Linked DNA regions of Homo sapiens: region 1 is linked to region 2. Evidence: fine-mapped expression QTL. Tissue or cell type: regulatory T cells. Region 2 holds a variant in brackets; the other region holds the start of a gene. All regions are shown on one strand. Distances are from middle to middle.

Region 1 (8,103 bases), 84 kb before region 2:
GGCCTGTTATGTCACTGCTTAGGGACAGAATGGTATAAATGTGCCAGGGGCAAAGACAGGAGTCTTTTGTAAGTTTCCACCCAGCTTTCCTACCACCAGGCTCACATTGTGAGCAGTCTCCTAATCAAGAGCTGCCCCAGCCTTAAGGCCCACCTTGTGGAACAAGTGCACTTAATGGCCACGGTGAGAAAGAAGAAAAAAAGAAAAAGAAAAAAAAAAAGATAAGCCTCCCAGTTTGCAGTGACTGGCTGATCTGATGTCCTTTGCTAATAGAGGCAGCTTTATAACACATCTCCATCACTGACTAGTAATCCAAAAGGCTCTGAGGTTTTAACGAATGGGATTGGTCCAAAACCTGACCTCACTTTCATTTAATTTCATGCCAGCTCCAATACACACCCAGCTGCGGAGACCTTGTCTAGCTAGTGAGCTGCTCAGACACAAAGGCGCTCTAATTACCATCCACAAGCCAGGCTGACAGAGATTTCAAGTGTTTTCATGTTTATGGAGATCAGAGAAATGTGTTCTGTACATCTTTTTCACTGATGGCAAGTATAAAATAAAACCAAACAAAAAACCCAACACATTTATTCAAAGCAGGCATTTCAGTTAAGTTAAAATCCTATAATCAGGATAGCCACAATTCCAGACACTCCGGTGCGAAGTGTAGATATGTCAGTAGCCACATCTGGATGATGAACAAGCCATTGACTATAAAAACGAGAACAACAGCACAGTCTCAGCGCCTTTAGAGTGAGTGAACAGTATGTTCCAAGCACTTCACCATGGTTCACAATGGCAAAGCCTGCAGCTTCTCCATTTGGAGGGTCACATTTTCTACTCGGTTTCCTGCACTTACAAAGGCCAGCTGGCATGGCTGGGGGAGGGGCAGAGGGAGGAAATCAACTCGTCTATCCAGGGAATTGCAGCTGTTATTGCAAATGGCCCCGGAGAGCCCATTATAAGCTGCTGTGCTAGGCTGTGTGTCCCTGGAGTGTCCATCACATGGCGTCTCCCTAGCCCCCAACCCAGGCCCCCAGGATCCCAGAGCCACCCGCTTGAGTAGGACTGCAGAGCCGAGTAGGAGAGGAGGAACCCAGGGCCCGGTCTCGGGAGTTTCCGTGAAAGCCCGGAGCGCGGCCAGGGGCGGTGGTCGCCTACCGAAGCACAGCCGCCCAGCACGTCCGCGCTTTCCCACACCCGCGGTGGCGGCGACGCGCGTGTCCTCAGGAGACTCCAGCACTTGCAAAACACTGCGCTCTTCTCCGAGCACCGGCAGAACCTGGCTACTCTGTCCCGCAACCCAGTGCGTGCCCAGGAAACAGTGACCTTGAACCGAGGAGAGGCGGGCCGGCTCTGAAAATACACTTTAGACAGGGCGTGGGGTTCACTCCGCGCCTCTCTACCCTTCCACCACCATTCAATACTCCCCGCCCCCACCTCCTTTCCCCACCCGTGTCGTACAGCCTTCCCCCACCACTCTGAGAAGAGAGACAGTTGCAAAGAGAGCGCAGGGGTTAACTCCTATTCAACCCCCAAAGGGTCCCTTCATGGCACCGCATGTTTGGTATTAAGCAGCACCTCCAAAGACACAAGATGGTTTTTTTAAGTCTGGCAGATTGGGCTGCACCCTGAAATTATCTACTCATGTTCTCCTCCCCCAAAGTGGATCAGGAGCCAGCCCTGAAAAGGTAAAGCAAGTAACTGGCATCATCCTCCGTGGTTCCGGCGCACCGCGATCCGGAGAAGCGTGGATTGTGGCCACATGGTCGCGGGGCTGGAGGGCACTGAGAGGCTGCGAGGAAATGCAGGCTCCGCGGCCAGGTCGGGTCACGCCAAATAAGGAGTCCTACTGACTTGTACGTTTGAGGTGCGCTCTGTAAAATCTGCCTTAAATAGGGCCAAAGTCCTTCATTCCAAATATTTTGGCCCTCAACCCCAGTTACCCGCGAAACACTCGCGATTTTTCGGTTCCTCGTCATTAGCTTTTTACTCTCGCTTCCAAAAGCCAGAGTTCTCCACCAGCCTGAGTAGAACTGCAGCCCTCAAGGGAACCCCTTGCCCTCCAGTCTGAGGCTGGCGCTGTGGCCACCCCGGGCGTGTTAGCTGCCAGGCACAAGAACGCCGTCGCCAGTTCTGAGCTGCGCCCTCCCGGAGGCGCCAGGGTCACTGCAGGCCGCGCGAGGGCTGCGAGGCGAAGGGGGTTCATGCACCGGGGCCGACAGAGGTCCCAGGAGCGGGCGTTGGGGAAGCTTTGCACGTAACTGCAGCCGTCGCGAATGAAGCCTTCGCACGGCCTCCTTGATGAGGTTTCCAGAGAGCACTAGCTGCTGCAGAAGCCGGTGCGGGTCGTCGTCGCCTGTGCGGGTTTCTGGTTGGGACCCGCGTCGCTGCTGCAGGCGGCGGGAGGCGGCGGCGCCCCGGAGCCATCCTCGCCGGCACGGACCCGACAGCGGCTGCGGGATGCCCTGCTTGCCAGCTCCCGGAGGCCCATCAAGGTCGGCCTGAGGGGGCAGTGGGGACAGCGCGCTGGGGCCTGTGGCGAGCTCGGCCACGCAGTAGGGCGCAGCGCGGCCCCGCACGCGGCCGCGGTCCCCCAGGGCGCAGCGCAGGACCCCAGGGGGCGCCGGGCCCACAGTCTCCGCCAACGCGGGCGGCAGCAGCAGCGGCACCGCCGGGGACCTGGCCTTGTCCGCCGGCACCGCCGCAGCCAGGGGCCCCGGGGCCCGCAGCGGCGCCCCCGGGGGCCCGCACGGCGAGGCCGGGCTGTGCTGCGCCGCGTCCAGCTGCAGCGTCTCGCCGATCTGGGCCACCAGCCGGTCCACCTCGCCCGAGCTGCCCAGCGCCACTGACTGCTGCAGTAGGAGGAAGCTGTCCTCCTCCTCTTCCTCCCCCTCCGCCTCCTCGCCGGCTTCCTCTTCCTCCTCCCTCCGGCACGGCATGGCCCCCTGTCTGGGCACCCGGAGCTGTGCGGGCGTCGCTGGGGGCTCGGCTGCCGGCGGGCGCGGTGGGCCGCGGCGGAGCGGGCGCGGAGCTGAAGACTAAGTCTGGACCGGGGCCGGGGCGGACGCGGAAGCCGGAGCCCGCCAGGCACTCTAGCCGCGCGCCTGCAGCCGCGGGAGCCGGAATCCTGCCGGCTCGGGTTGATTTGTAAACAATGGGTGACGTCACGTCGGGCCCTACCACCGCGCCGGGGAGGGGGTGCTGTGCCGCTGGGGGACGGCGCTTCTGTGGGATTGGGGGTCTGGGTGAAGCCGGACTGCCTTCTGAGCTCCTTCGCTCAGGGTGCTGTCTGCAAGGGCGCCCTGGGGACCTGATCCTGGCTCCCGCAGTCGGGCGCGATTGGCATTTCCAGAAATGGGCACCAGCGTGAACCCTGTTGGTTTCTTCCACACACAAGCAAGCACGCACACTAACACACACCCACCCACCCACACACCCCTTCTCTCCGTGCGTCAACTCAACCGGTTTTTAGCGTTTGCGCTTTTGAGGTCCGGCATGCGGGCGTCTGGTGAGGATGGAAAGGAAAGGGAGTCAGGCTAGGGATTTGTACGGAGATTAGGGAAATGAAGCTGACGGGAATGGAAAGGAAGAAGGGGACCTTGTCGTTCGATGGAGGTGGCAGAGTTGGAAATGGCAAAGAAAGGCCACAGATTAATGTTTTTTGATCGAGATCCTGGGCGGATGGGGGCCTGGACTGGGGTTGGCATTGCTGGAGAGGAGGTTGCTAGTCTTTTTGTTTATTTGTTTGTTTGTTTTTTTGAGACGGAGTCTCGCTCTATCGCCCAGGCTGGAGTGCAGTGGCTCGATCTCCACTCACTACAACCTCCGCCTCCTGCGTTTAAGCAATTCTCCTGCCTCAGCCTTCCGAGTAGCTGGGATTACAGGCGCCCACCACCACGCCCGGCTAATTTTTGTATTTTTAGTAGAGACGGGGTTTCACCATGTTGGCCAGGCTGGTCTCGAACTCCTGACCTCAGGTGATCCACCCGCCTCAGCCTCCCAAAGTGCTGGGATTACAGGCGTGAGCCACTGCGCCCGGCCTAGGTTGCTACTCTTTTTGTTTTGTTTTGTTTTTTTGAGACAGAGTTTCGCTCTTGTTGCCCAGGCTGGAGTACAATGGCGCAATCTCCGCTCACCACAACTTCCGCCTCCTGGGTTCAAGCAGTTCTCCTGCCTCAGCCTCCCGAGTTGCTGGGATTACAGGCATGCGCCGCCATGCCCAGCCTAATTTTGTGTTTTTAGCAGAGATGGGGTTTCTCCATATTGGTCAGGCTGGTCTGGTACTCCCGACCTCAGGTGATCCACCTGCCTCGGCCTCCCAAAATCCTGGGATTACAAGCGTGAGCCACCACGCCTGGCTATAGGTTGTTAGTCTTAAGAGGGGCTATGTCCAGAAAGTTGTTTAAAAAAAAGCCTCAGACCAGTAGGGGGGATGGGCTCTGAGGAGGTACGTAGTAGCAGAGAAAAATACCTGTTTGGATGAAAATGGAGATACGCTTCCTTCCTTCCTTTCTTCCTTTTCTTTCTCTTTCTTTTCTTTCTTTGACAGAATTTCACTCTGTCACCCAGGCTGGAGTGCAGTGGTGTGATCTGGCTGATTGCAGCCTTGACTTCCCAGGATCAGGTGATCCTCCCACCTCAGCCTCCCGAGTAGCTGGGACAATAGGCACGCGCCACTACACCTGGCTAATTTTTGTATTTTTAGTGGATACAGGGTTTCGCCATGTTGGCCCGTCCGGTCTCAAACTCCTGGACTCAAGCAATCCCTCCTCCCGAAATGCTGGCGTTACAGACATGAGCCACCGCGCCCAGCCTGGAAGCAACTTTAAAATTCTGAGCATGATATAGAAAATAGGATACAAAGAAAGAAATGAGCCTGGAGATCCAGATAAATAGAAAACGAGGGTCTTGTTGGGCAGTTCCAACGATAATAATTATAGGAGCAAACCTTTAGGAAGGGATGAGTGCAGGAAAGAGGTAGGGAAGTTGGTTTAAAAAGAGTTGGGTTTGTTTTTGTCAAGTGTGGAGGAAAAAATGTAAAAACAGAGGAAGAGACAGTTTAAACAAAGCCATTGGATTTCTAATCTACGAAATCTGGATTTCTACAGGGTGTCATAAGGTTCATCACCTTGTTTTTGTGGATTCCTTAGGATTTTCTATATAGAAGATCGTGTCATCTACAAATAGAGATAGTTTTGCTTCTCTTCTTTTTCTTTTTTCTTTTCTTTTTTTCTTTTTTTTTTTTTTTGAGACAGGGTCTCATTCTGTGGCCCAGGCTGGAGTGCAGTGGCATGATCTCTGCTCACTGCAGCCTTGACTTCCCCAGGCTCAGTTGATCCTCCTATCTCAGCCTCCTGAGTAGCTGGGACTACAGGTGCAAGCCACCATGCCTGGCTAATTTTTGTATTTTTTGTAGACCCAGGGGGTCTCACCATGTTGCTCGGGCAGGTCTTGAACTCCTGAGCTCAAACGATCCGCCCACCCCAGCTTCCTAAAGTGCTAAGATTACAGGCATGAGCCACAGCACCTGGCCCTGTCTTATTCCTGATCTTAGATGAAAACATTCAGTCTTTCACAACATTAGGTAGGATGTTAGCTGTGGATTTTTCATAGATAGTATTTATCAGGTTAAGAATGTTCCCTTCTATTCCTGGTTTGTTGGGCATTTGTTGTTGTTGTTGTTGTTGTTGTTATTGTTGTTGTGATGGAGTCTTGCTCTGTTGTCCAGGCTGGAGTGCAGTGGCACAATCTTCGCTCACTGCAACCTCTGCCTCCCGGGTTCAAGCAGTTCTCCTGCCTCAGCCTGCTAAGTAGCTGACACTGCAGGCGTGCACCACCATGCCTGGCTAATTTTTGTATTTTTAGTAGAGATGGGGTTTCACCATGTTGGCCAGGCTGGTCTTGAACTCCTGACTTCAGGTGATCCGCCTGCCTCGACCTCCCAAAGTGCTGGGATTTACAGGCATGAGCCACCAGACCCGGCCTACTTAAAATTTTCAAATGAAAATAATTAGTAGCAGTTTACAATTTGTGCATTTTTATCTTTGGCTCACAACTTATAAGCCTCATATATTGTTGTGGGCATGAAAAATGGTACAACCACCTTGGAAAAAGGCCTGACAGTTTCTTATAAAATGAAACATACACCTGTCCTGGAACACAGTTTCAATCCTGGATACTTAGCTAAGAGAAATAAACACATGGGCCCACATCAAGGCCTACAGGGAGGTGATCATAGCATATTTTTTTTTCTTTTTAATTGAGACAGGGTCTCCCTCTTTTGCCCAGGCTGGAGTGCAGTGGCACGATGTTGGCTCACATCAAAGGAGTTTTATTCATAAAAGCCAAAAGTGAAATGGCCCAAGTGTTCATCAACAGGTGAATGGACAAACAACCTATTGTACATTCACACAGGATGATGACAGAAAACAGTTCAGCAACAGAAAGGACTGAATATTGCTGCATGCAGTAACATGAATGAAGCTTAAAAACAGTATGCTAAGTGAAAGAAGCCAGATAAAAACGGATATATGTCATATGTTTCTGTTTATATGAAGTTCTAGAACAGGGAAAGTAACTTACGGTGGGGAAAACATCAGAAGACTGGTTGCCTTTGGAAAAGGTAGAGCAGGGGCAGGACTGACACTGTGACACTGAACAGACAGAGGGAACTTGCAGGAGGGTGGACATGTTCTAAATCTTGATATCTTGATTTGGGTTTCATAGGTTTAGGCATGTGTTAAAACTCATTGAGTGGGCTGGGCGCGGTGGCTCACGCCTGTAATCCCAACGCTTTGAGAGGCTGAGGTGGGCAGATCAGCTGAGGTCAGGAGTTTGAGACCAGTCTGGTCAACATGGTGAAACCCCGTCTCTACTAAAAATACAACAAGTAGCAGGGCATGGTGGCTCATGCCTGTAGTCCCAGCTACTCAGGAGATTGAGGCAGGAGAATTGCTTGAGCCCGAGAGGCAGAGGTTGCAGTAAGCCAAGATTGTGCCACTGCACTCCAGCCTGGGCAGTAGAGTGAGACCCTGTCTCAAAAAAACAAAAAACAAAAACAAAACAAAACAAAACAAAAAAACAAAGAGAAAAAAATTGTAGATTTTACATGAAGAGAATAAATTGTAAAGAAAGCTTGAATTATAGTAATAGACATGCTGATGAGTTTGGAGTGAGGTGTACTGATGTTTGCAATTTATTCCAAAGTACAGTAAAATGTGAGAAGGATTAATATAGATGGATTAGAAGGATAGTTAGACAGGTAGATATGTGATAAAACATGTATAGTAATATGTTAATGTTACCATATGACCCATCCATTCTACTTTTAGCTATATACCAGAGAAAATTGAAAACATATGTTCACATAAAAACGTGTACACAAATGTTGATAGCAGCATTATTCATGATAGTCAAAAAGTGCAAACAACTCAGATGTTCATCAGCTGATAAATGGATGAATCAAATGTCGTATACTCATACGATGGAGTATTATTCACCATAAAAAGGAATGAAGTACTGATACATGCTACAAAAGGAATGAATGTTGAAAACATTATGCTGAGTGAACAAATCAGACAGGAAAGGCAACATATTGTGTAATTCTATTTATATGAAACGTCCAGAATAGACAAATCCATAGAAACAGAAGGTAGATTAGTGGTTGCCAGGGGATGGGAGAAGGGGGGAATTAGGACTAACAGCTAATGGGTAAGAGTTTTCTTTTTGGGGTTATAAAAATGTTTTGAAATTAGTGGTGATGTTTGTACAACATAATGAATATACAGTACTAAAAACTATTGAAGTGTACACTTTAAAATGTTGAATTTTATGTTATGTGAAATATATCTCAATTTTTAAAATACTAGGATCTAGGTGTTGGGTAACAGGGTATTCTTTCAATTTTGTTGGCTGTTTGAAAAATTTTACAATAAAGTGTTAGAAACAATAAGCCATAGAAAAGGGGAAATTGGCTGGGTGCAGTGGCTCAGGCCTGTAATCCCAGCACTTTGGTAGGCCGAGGTGGGTGGATCATGAGGTCAAGAGATCGAGACCATCCTGGCTAACATGGTGAAATCCCATCTCTACTAAAAATACAAA
Region 2 (8,103 bases):
CCTCTACATCTTATTCCACTAGAAGGTCTTCAGAGGCAATATCACTCATGGAGCTGTCATCTCCTATGATAACAATGCCTTTTTCTAGAATACCTCCTGAAAGACTTGCCTGAGGCTGTTTTATAGTTAACTTTAAAAAAAAATAAGTAGGAGTGCACTCTAAAATAATGGTAAAAGGTATAAATGATGATAAAAGTATAGTATGGTAAATACATAAACCAGTAACATTATTGTTGTTTTGTTTTTTTGTTTTTTGTTTTTTTTTGGAGATAGAGTCTCGCTCTTTCGCCCAGGCTGGAGTGCAATGACGCAGACTTGGCTCACTGCAACCTCTGCCTCCCAGGTTCAAGCGATTCTCCTGCCTCAGCCTCCCGAGTAGCTGGGATTACAGGCGCCCACCACCACGCCCAGCTAATTTTTGTATTTTTAGTACAGATGAGGTTTCACCCTGTTGGCCAGGCTGGTCTTGAACTCCTGGTCTCAAGTGACCCACCTGTCTTGGCCTCCTAAAGTGTTGGGATTATAGGTGTGAGCTGCCACATCTAGCCCATTTATTATCATTATCAAGAATTATGTACTGTATATAATGGTATGTACTAGACTTTTATACAGCTTCCAGCACAGTAGGTTTGTTTATTCCAGCATCACTGCAGTCACTTGAGTAACACATTGCGCTGTGATGTTAGGACAGCAGTGATATCATGAGGTGATAGGAATTTTTCACCTCCATTATAATCTGATGGGACCTACTGTCATATACGTGGTCTGTCATTGACCAAAATGTCATTATGTGGTGCATGATTTTATCTGAACCTTATTTGTGGAAGAAACTATATTGTTTTCCGTAGACTGAGTTTTTTTTTTTTTTTTTTTGAGACAAGGTCTAGCTCTGTTGCCTAGACTGGAATGACGTGATTGATCTCAGCTCACTGCAACCTCTGCCTCCTGGGTTCAAGCCATCCTCCCACTTCAGCCTCCTGAGTAGCCGGGACTACAGGCATGTGCCACCATGCCTGGCTAATTTTTGTATTTTTTGTAGAGACAGGGTTTCGCCATGTTGCCCAGGCTGGTCATGAACTCTTGAGCTCAAGTGATCTGCTGGCTTTGGCCTCCCAAAGTGCTGAGATTACAGGCATGAGCCACCATGCTTGGCCTATATTCTGGATTTTAATGATTGCATTCCTGTAATGTTATTCAACATGTTTCACAGTCCTGTGTTCATGCTATAAACTGGTAGTTAGATCTATTTCTAGAGGCTTGATCTGATTCTAATTCAGTTTTTCAGGCTAAGAACACTTTATATGTGGTGTATTTTTTTTTTTTTTTTTTTTTTCTGAGTCTGTTGCCCAGGCTGGAGTGCAGTGGCACAATCATGGCTCACTGCAGCCTCGACCTCCCTGGGCTCAGGTGATCATGATCCTCCCACCACAGCCTCCCGAGTAGCTGAGACTACAGATGTACACCACCATGCCCGGCTAATTTTTTGTATTTTTAGTGGCATGTACTTTTTAATATGCATTTTAAAAAGGCTCTGGATACACCTTGCTAAATACCTTCCCAGAACATTTTGCCAGTTAACACTCCCTTGAGTTGGATATGAGAGAATTTACCTTATTGTACCCTTGCCACCATCAGGAAAGATGCATTTTTTACTTGTCCCAGTTTATTCAGGAGGGATACTTAACTAGCTAAGCTCTTCAGACGTGGCTAATTTTTCTGCCTGCCGAGACAATTAACTTTGAGAACCTCTTGGTACTTTTATGTAAAAGTAATTTTTTAACCTCCAGAACTTGAACTGGTAAAATTCCCAAATTTTTACAGTTCCGAAATTTTAAAAGTATAGTTAGAAAAGGCAGAAGAGGCTGGGTGTGGTGTCTCACGCCTGTAATCCTAGCACTTTGGTAGGCCGAGGTGGGCGGATCACTTGAGGTCAGGAGTTCGAGATCAGCCTGGCCAACACAGTGAAGCCCCATCTCTACTAAAAATAGAAAAAATTAGCTGGGTGTGGTGGCGCACGCCTGTAATCCCAGCTACTCGCCAGGCTGAGGCATGAGAATTGCTTGAACCTGGGAGGCGGAGGTTGCAGTGAGCCGAGATTGTGCCACTGCGCTCCAGCCTGGCAACAGAGTGAGACTCTGTCTCCAGCAACAACAGCAACATCATCAACAATCTGAAAAGGCAGAAGAGTAGAAGAGTTAAATGCTATATTATTATTACTTTTTAAGTGGGAAATGAATGGCTAATCAAAGCATTGAATAAGATTATTCAATGCATTGGGTCTTCTCGTTTTCCACTTTAGATACCTCCAGAGAGCTGATGTTGATAGCATTGACAAGTCTGCATTCTGATGTATTTCCTCTGATGGTATTGTTGTCAGGCAGTCATGATAGATGTCCATTTAAAGAGTTTTAGTAACTTAAAAAAATTCTGTATGCAATTTATGTTAAATTAGGGACTGTTTTAGATTGTGCCAGTAACTGTGTGGTTCCAAGATGCTTTGTTGCAAAAAAGTCTTGGTTAGCAGCTGGGGATCGTGGATAAATTTCATAAGCTCTCCAAGTCTCAGTTTTTTTGTCTGTAGAATGGGGACAGTAATTCCACATTCAAGGAATGTGGCGTGCAGAGCCCCTCAGAGCACTTGAATCCACTTCTTTTGGCATCATCATTTCTGACTTTGTGATTGGCTTTTTGACCTCCTAATCCATCTATGCGCAGACTCAGTTTTTCCTGGACTTTTATTTACACTTAGCTATTAGTTGTCACAGAATGCCGTGTCTTGATGGGAAAGTATTTATAAAATGTTCTCCATGTTTTCTTTTAGTTTAATAAGCAATCATTGACCCAGACACCAGGGCGAGAACCTTCTACTTCCCAGGTACAAAAGAGGGCTCGTTCGCGCTCCTTCAGTGGGCTTATTAAGGTAGGTATGCTGGGCTGTCGTTTTCAGCATTGATTTTTAGGAAATGTAACAATGTGATTTTTCTTATGCATAAAAAGTTTTCTTCTGTTTTTTGGGGACCCTATAAAGGGCTAGTTTATAAGGGGGTAAAGACAAAATGTTGAAAAGCTTTTATATTGCAAAGTGCTTTGCTGTGTTGCACATCAGAGAAGGGGCTCTGTGACGTGAGGAGTAGAAGTAAGGGTCCTTCCTTTTCTTCTGGGGCTAAGGGGCTAAGGACAGAGTCTGCATTCCTGAGCAGTGTAAGAGGCCCTTTTGTTTTCTGATCAGCTTCGAGTTACACACTTCTTTATGCAATTTGGTAAACCTGTGGAGAAGTGAGGAAGTTGAGACAGACTAGGGAAACTGTTAGAAAACTGGATTTTCCAATAGGCTAGTGAGTTTTGATACCCCAAATTTTTGTGAGCTTAATATTTTTAACAGTTGTTGTACTTTCTTCCATGTATCAAATTCAGTAAAAATCTTGTTTTTAAAACAAATACAAAATATGCTTCTATGTTATTGCTGCTATCACCATGTTTGCAGATTAAATTTATAAGTCTTCAAACTATCGGAACATGTAGTGAAGGAATATTGCCATCAGGTGGCAGTAGATAACTTGATCATGGGGTTCAAATTTCCATGCATGAACTAAGGCAAGGTTTTGGTTAACTTGGAGAGAGATGAGTGCTATATACACTGCTTTTCTTTTCTATTTTTCTTTTTTGGAAGAGATTGCTGCCCCAAAAGCACTGAGTATCTTTTTTTTTTTTTTTTTTTT[TTA/A]ATTTTTATTTCTGGGTACATGTGCAGGATGTGCAGGTTTGTTATATAGGTAAATGTGTGCCATGGTGGTTTGCTGCACCTGTAAACCCATCACCTAGGTATGAAGCCCAGCATGCGTTAGCTATTTTTATTTTTTTAATTTTTTTTTGAGACAGAGTCTCGCTGTTGTCGCCCAGGCTGGAGTGCAATAACATGGTCTCGGCTCACTGCAACCTCCCCCTCTTGGGTTCAAGCGATTCTCCTGCCTCAGCTTCCCAAGTAGGTAGGATTACAAGTGCCTGCCACCATGCCCAGCTAATTTTTGCCTTTTTAGTAGAGAGGGGGTTTCACCATGTCGGCCAGGCTGGTCTGGAACTCCTGACCTCAGGTGATTCACCCGCCTCAGCCTCCCAAATTGCTGGGATTACAGGCATAAGCCATTGCGTCTGGCCAGCTACTTTTCTTAATACTCTCCTTCCCCCCACTCCACCCCCCAACAGGCCCCAGTGTGTGTTGTTCCCCTCCCTGTGTCCATGTGTTCTCATTGTTTAGCTCCCACTTTTTTTTTTTAGATGGAGTCTCTCTCTGTCACCCAGGCTGGAGTGCAGTGGCTTGATCTCAGCTCACTGCAGCCTCCGCCTCCTGGTTTCAAGCCATTTTCCTGCCTCAGCCTCCCAAGTAGCTGGGACTACAGGCGTGCGCCACCATGCCTGGCTCATTTTTGTAGTTTTAGTAGAGACGAGGTTTCACCATGTTGGCCAGGCTGGTCTCGAACTCGTGACCTCAAGTGATCCACCCGCCTTGGCCTTCCAAAGTACTGGGATTATAGGCATGAGCCACTGCACCCGGCCAGCTCCTACTCACAAGTGAGAACATGTGGTGTTTGGTTTTCTGTTCTTGTGTTAGTTTGCTGAGGATGGCTTCCTTTTGTTTTTATTTTTGGTGTTTTGCCCTGCTTTTCTTTTAAAAATTACTTTGTTATTAAGATATATAATTCCAGCAACACAGGGAGCTCTTTGCTTAAAATTTAAAATTTTTGCCCTAAAAATAAATAACTTGTAATATTTATTTATTTATTTATTTTTGAGACAGGGTCTTGCTCTGCTGCTCAGGCTGAAGTACAAGTGGCACCATCATGGCTTATTGCAGCCTTGATCTCCTGGGCGCTCAGCGATCCTCCTACTTCAGCCTCCCAAGTAGCTGGGACCACAAGTGCATGCCATCATACCTGGCTGATTTTTAAATGTTTGTAGAGATGGGGTCTTGCTGTGTTGCTGGTCTTTTTTTTTTGAGACAGTCTCGCTCTATGCCTCAGGCTGGAGTGCAGTGGCGTGATCTCAGCTCACTGCAACCTCCATCTCCAGGGTTCAAGTGATTCTTCCACCTCAGCCTCCCTAGTAGCTGGGATTACAGGCGCCCACCACCATGCCCGGCTAATTTTTTGTATTTTTAGTAGAGATGGGGTTTCACCATGTTGGCCAGCCTGGTCTTGAACTCCTGGCCTCAAGTAATCTGCCCGCTTCGGCCTCCCAAAGTGCTGAGATTATAGGCGTGAGCCACCATGCCCAGCCTGTGTTGCTGGTCTTGAATTTCTGGGCTCAAGTGATCCTCCTGCTTTGGCCCCCTGAAGTGCTGGGATTACAGATGTGAGCCACTGTGTCTGTAATTTTTTTTTTTTGAGGTACAGCTGTTAGCATTTACAAATTCATCTTACTGTAATTTTGGTCCTAGTTATAATTTATAGATATCTAGAATTCACTCTCAATCCTGACCTCCTGGGGCCAGTAGCTTCTAGGACATTAGGCTTACTTGACATCAAAATTTCCTTTGCCATCTACAGAGTGAAAAGGCAACCCTGGATTGGGAGAAAATATTTGCAAATCATATTTATGATTAGGGATTAATATCCATAATAATCTAAAGAACTCCTATAACTCAACACAGCAAAAACAACCTCATTAAAGAGTGGGCAGAGGCCGCGCACAGTGGCTCACGCCTGTAATCCCAGTACTTTGGGAGGCTGAGGTGGGCGGATCACGAGGTCAGGAGATTAAGACCATTCTGGCTAACACGGTGAAACTCCATCTCTATTAAAAATACAAAAAATTAGCCGGGCATGTTGGCATGTGCCTGTAGTCCCAGCTACTCAGGAGGCTGAGGCAGGAGAATCGTTTGAACCCAGGAGGCAGAGGTTGCAGTGAGCCGAGATTGAGCCACTGTACTCCAGCCTGGGTGACAGAGCGAGACTCTGTCTCAAAAAAAAAAAAAAAAAAAAAAAAAAATAGTGAGCAAAGGACTTAAATAGAAATTTCTCCAGAGAAGATGTACAGATGGCCAAGAAACACATGAAAAGATGTTCAACATCACTAATCATTAGGGAAATGTAAATCAAAACCACAATTAGATACCACTTCACACCCACTAGGATGACTATTATTAAAAAAAAAAAAAAAAAAACAACGGAAAATAACAAATGTTGATGAGGATGTGGAGAATTTGGAACCCCTATGCATTATTGATAGGGATGTAAAATGGAGGAGCCACTGTGGAAAACAGTATGGCAGTTCCTAAAAAATTTAAATAGAATGACCTTGTGATCCAGCAATGCTACTCCCGGTATATAACCAAAAGAATTGAAAGCAGGGTCTTGAGGCAATATTTGTACACCCGTATTCATAGCAGCATTATTCACAAAAGCCAAAAGGCAGAAGCAACCCAACTGTCTATTGACTGATGAATGGATGACAAACCTTGGATATACAGATAATGGAACATTATTTGTCCTTAAAAAGGAAAGAAATTCTGACATATCCTACAACATGCGTGAATCTTGAAGATATTATGCTAAGAGAAATAATCCAGTCATAAAAGGAAAAATACTGTATGATTCCACTGAGGTACCTGTGAGTCAAGTTCAGAGACAGAAAGTAGAGAAGGTGGTTGGTTGTCAGGGGAGCTAAGAGTATGAGGAGAATGGGGAGATATTATTTAATGGGTACAGTATTTCTGTTTGGGAGGATGAGAAAGTTCTGAAGATAGATGATGGTGATGGTTGCACAACACTATTAATATACTTAATACCATTGAACTGTATACTTAAAAATGGTTAAAATAGTAAATTTTATGTTATGTTCATTTTATCATTGTTTAAAAAAAATCCCTTAGCTAGAATCCTAAAAGTGCATTTACCTGCTTAGACAGGGCTAGTAAAACGAACATCGTTAGTTTACTCTTGTTTTTTTCTTCTCATTTGGAAGAATCTGTCATTCCCTCTGACTTCCCTGTCATAGAGATGATTGAGAATCAGAAAAGTTATAGTCAGATAAATGTTCCTCTATGTGTTAGTCTTTTTTTTTTTTTTTTTTTTTTTTTTTTTTGGTGAGACAAGAGTCTCACTAGGTGTGCAGGCTGGAGTGCAGTGGCATGATCTCAGCTCACTGCAACTTCCACTTCCTGGGTTCAAGTGATTCTCATGCCTCGGCCTCCCGAGTAGCTGGGATTACAGGCATGCACCACCACGCCCAGTTAATTTTAGTAGAGACAGTATTTCACCATGTTGGCCAGGCTGGTCTCAAACTCCTGGCCTCCAGCGATTCACCCGCCTCAGCGTCCCAAAGTGCTGAGATTACAGGCGTGAGCCACCGCTCCCGGCCTAAAATATTATTTTTGTGTTTTCCCTCAGCCTTATCAAGGTATAATTGACCATCTAGCCTGTCTGGATCCCTTTTTTGGCTAGAGTTTTTTCCTCCAGAACTCCTCTCATGTAAATTATTTATTAAATCAGAATGTTCTGAATATTGCTGCTCATATTTATAATGCAGGGTTTAATGTTCTAGTTTTGATATGTTCTTTTTTTAGAATTCAAATTTATTCTCTAAGGGAAAAAAAAATTTCTCCAAAGATGGTAGAATTGTCACTGTTGGCGGTTACCTAAACTACATCATCTTCTAAGCTGTTCAGAGATGAAAGGGCTTTTAGTCTTGCTCTGAATGTCAGTACAGTCATGTGACCCCCTTAAGAAGGCCTCTACCTTCTTGTGGCTATATTAGGAACTCTTATAGAATGTCTCCAAATGTTCCAGTCCTGTGTGAGTAAATGACAGGGAGGAAGAAGTGCCTTAGAGAAGAGCCAGCCTAAGTATCCCTCAGTGGTAAGTAGGGGGGAGGGACTTTTTAAATAGTTGCCAGAGACAGCACATCTTTGGGGAAAAAAATTATATGATGAGTAACTGGTGTTTCTATATTGTGAGTAACTGGTCTCAGAGGCACACTGTAATTGACCTATATTAGCTTGTTTAAATCAACTATAAAGTTGCTTCTAACCTTTCAGCCCTTTTAAATGTGGAGGAAAAGTGATCACTTAAACAAAAGTAATGATTTTGGGTTTTTTTGGTAACATGCTTT

Direction of the effects. Alleles are on the strand shown, and positions count from the first base shown. SD is a standard deviation of normalised expression in the study named.
For the expression in regulatory T cells of the gene that starts at base 3,125 in region 1, A is the high allele of the variant in region 2 and TTA is the other (moderate effect, 0.61 SD a copy in Schmiedel 2018).

Evidence for each region. PIP is the estimated chance that this variant, and not a neighbour inherited with it, causes the effect.
Region 1: it holds the start of FRAT1, and the variant in region 2 is fine-mapped to the expression of FRAT1 in regulatory T cells (Schmiedel 2018, PIP 0.95).

The regions. Positions count from the first base shown.
Region 1 is chr10:97,314,293-97,322,395 of GRCh38, reverse strand. It overlaps FRAT1 (FRAT regulator of Wnt signaling pathway 1), which reads right to left and starts at 3,125. Exons shown (of 1, transcript NM_005479.4): 1 at 481-3,125. The coding sequence starts at 2,942. The coding sequence ends at 2,103. RefSeq lists enhancers at 1,741-1,900, 2,990-3,284, 3,022-3,811 and silencers at 2,241-2,340, 2,841-3,150.
Region 2 is chr10:97,230,034-97,238,136 of GRCh38, reverse strand. ARHGAP19 (Rho GTPase activating protein 19) reads left to right here. Exons shown (of 12, transcript NM_032900.6): 9 at 2,822-2,920. It overlaps ARHGAP19-SLIT1 (ARHGAP19-SLIT1 readthrough (NMD candidate)), which reads left to right. Exons shown (of 15, transcript NR_037909.1): 9 at 2,822-2,920. LOC105378447 (a long non-coding RNA gene) reads right to left here. Exons shown (of 3, transcript XR_946226.3): 3 at 6,899-6,981. Among named protein-coding and RNA genes, the nearest start is that of SLIT1, 48 kb to the right of the region's middle. The variant TTA/A (reference allele first, on the strand shown) is at 3,720.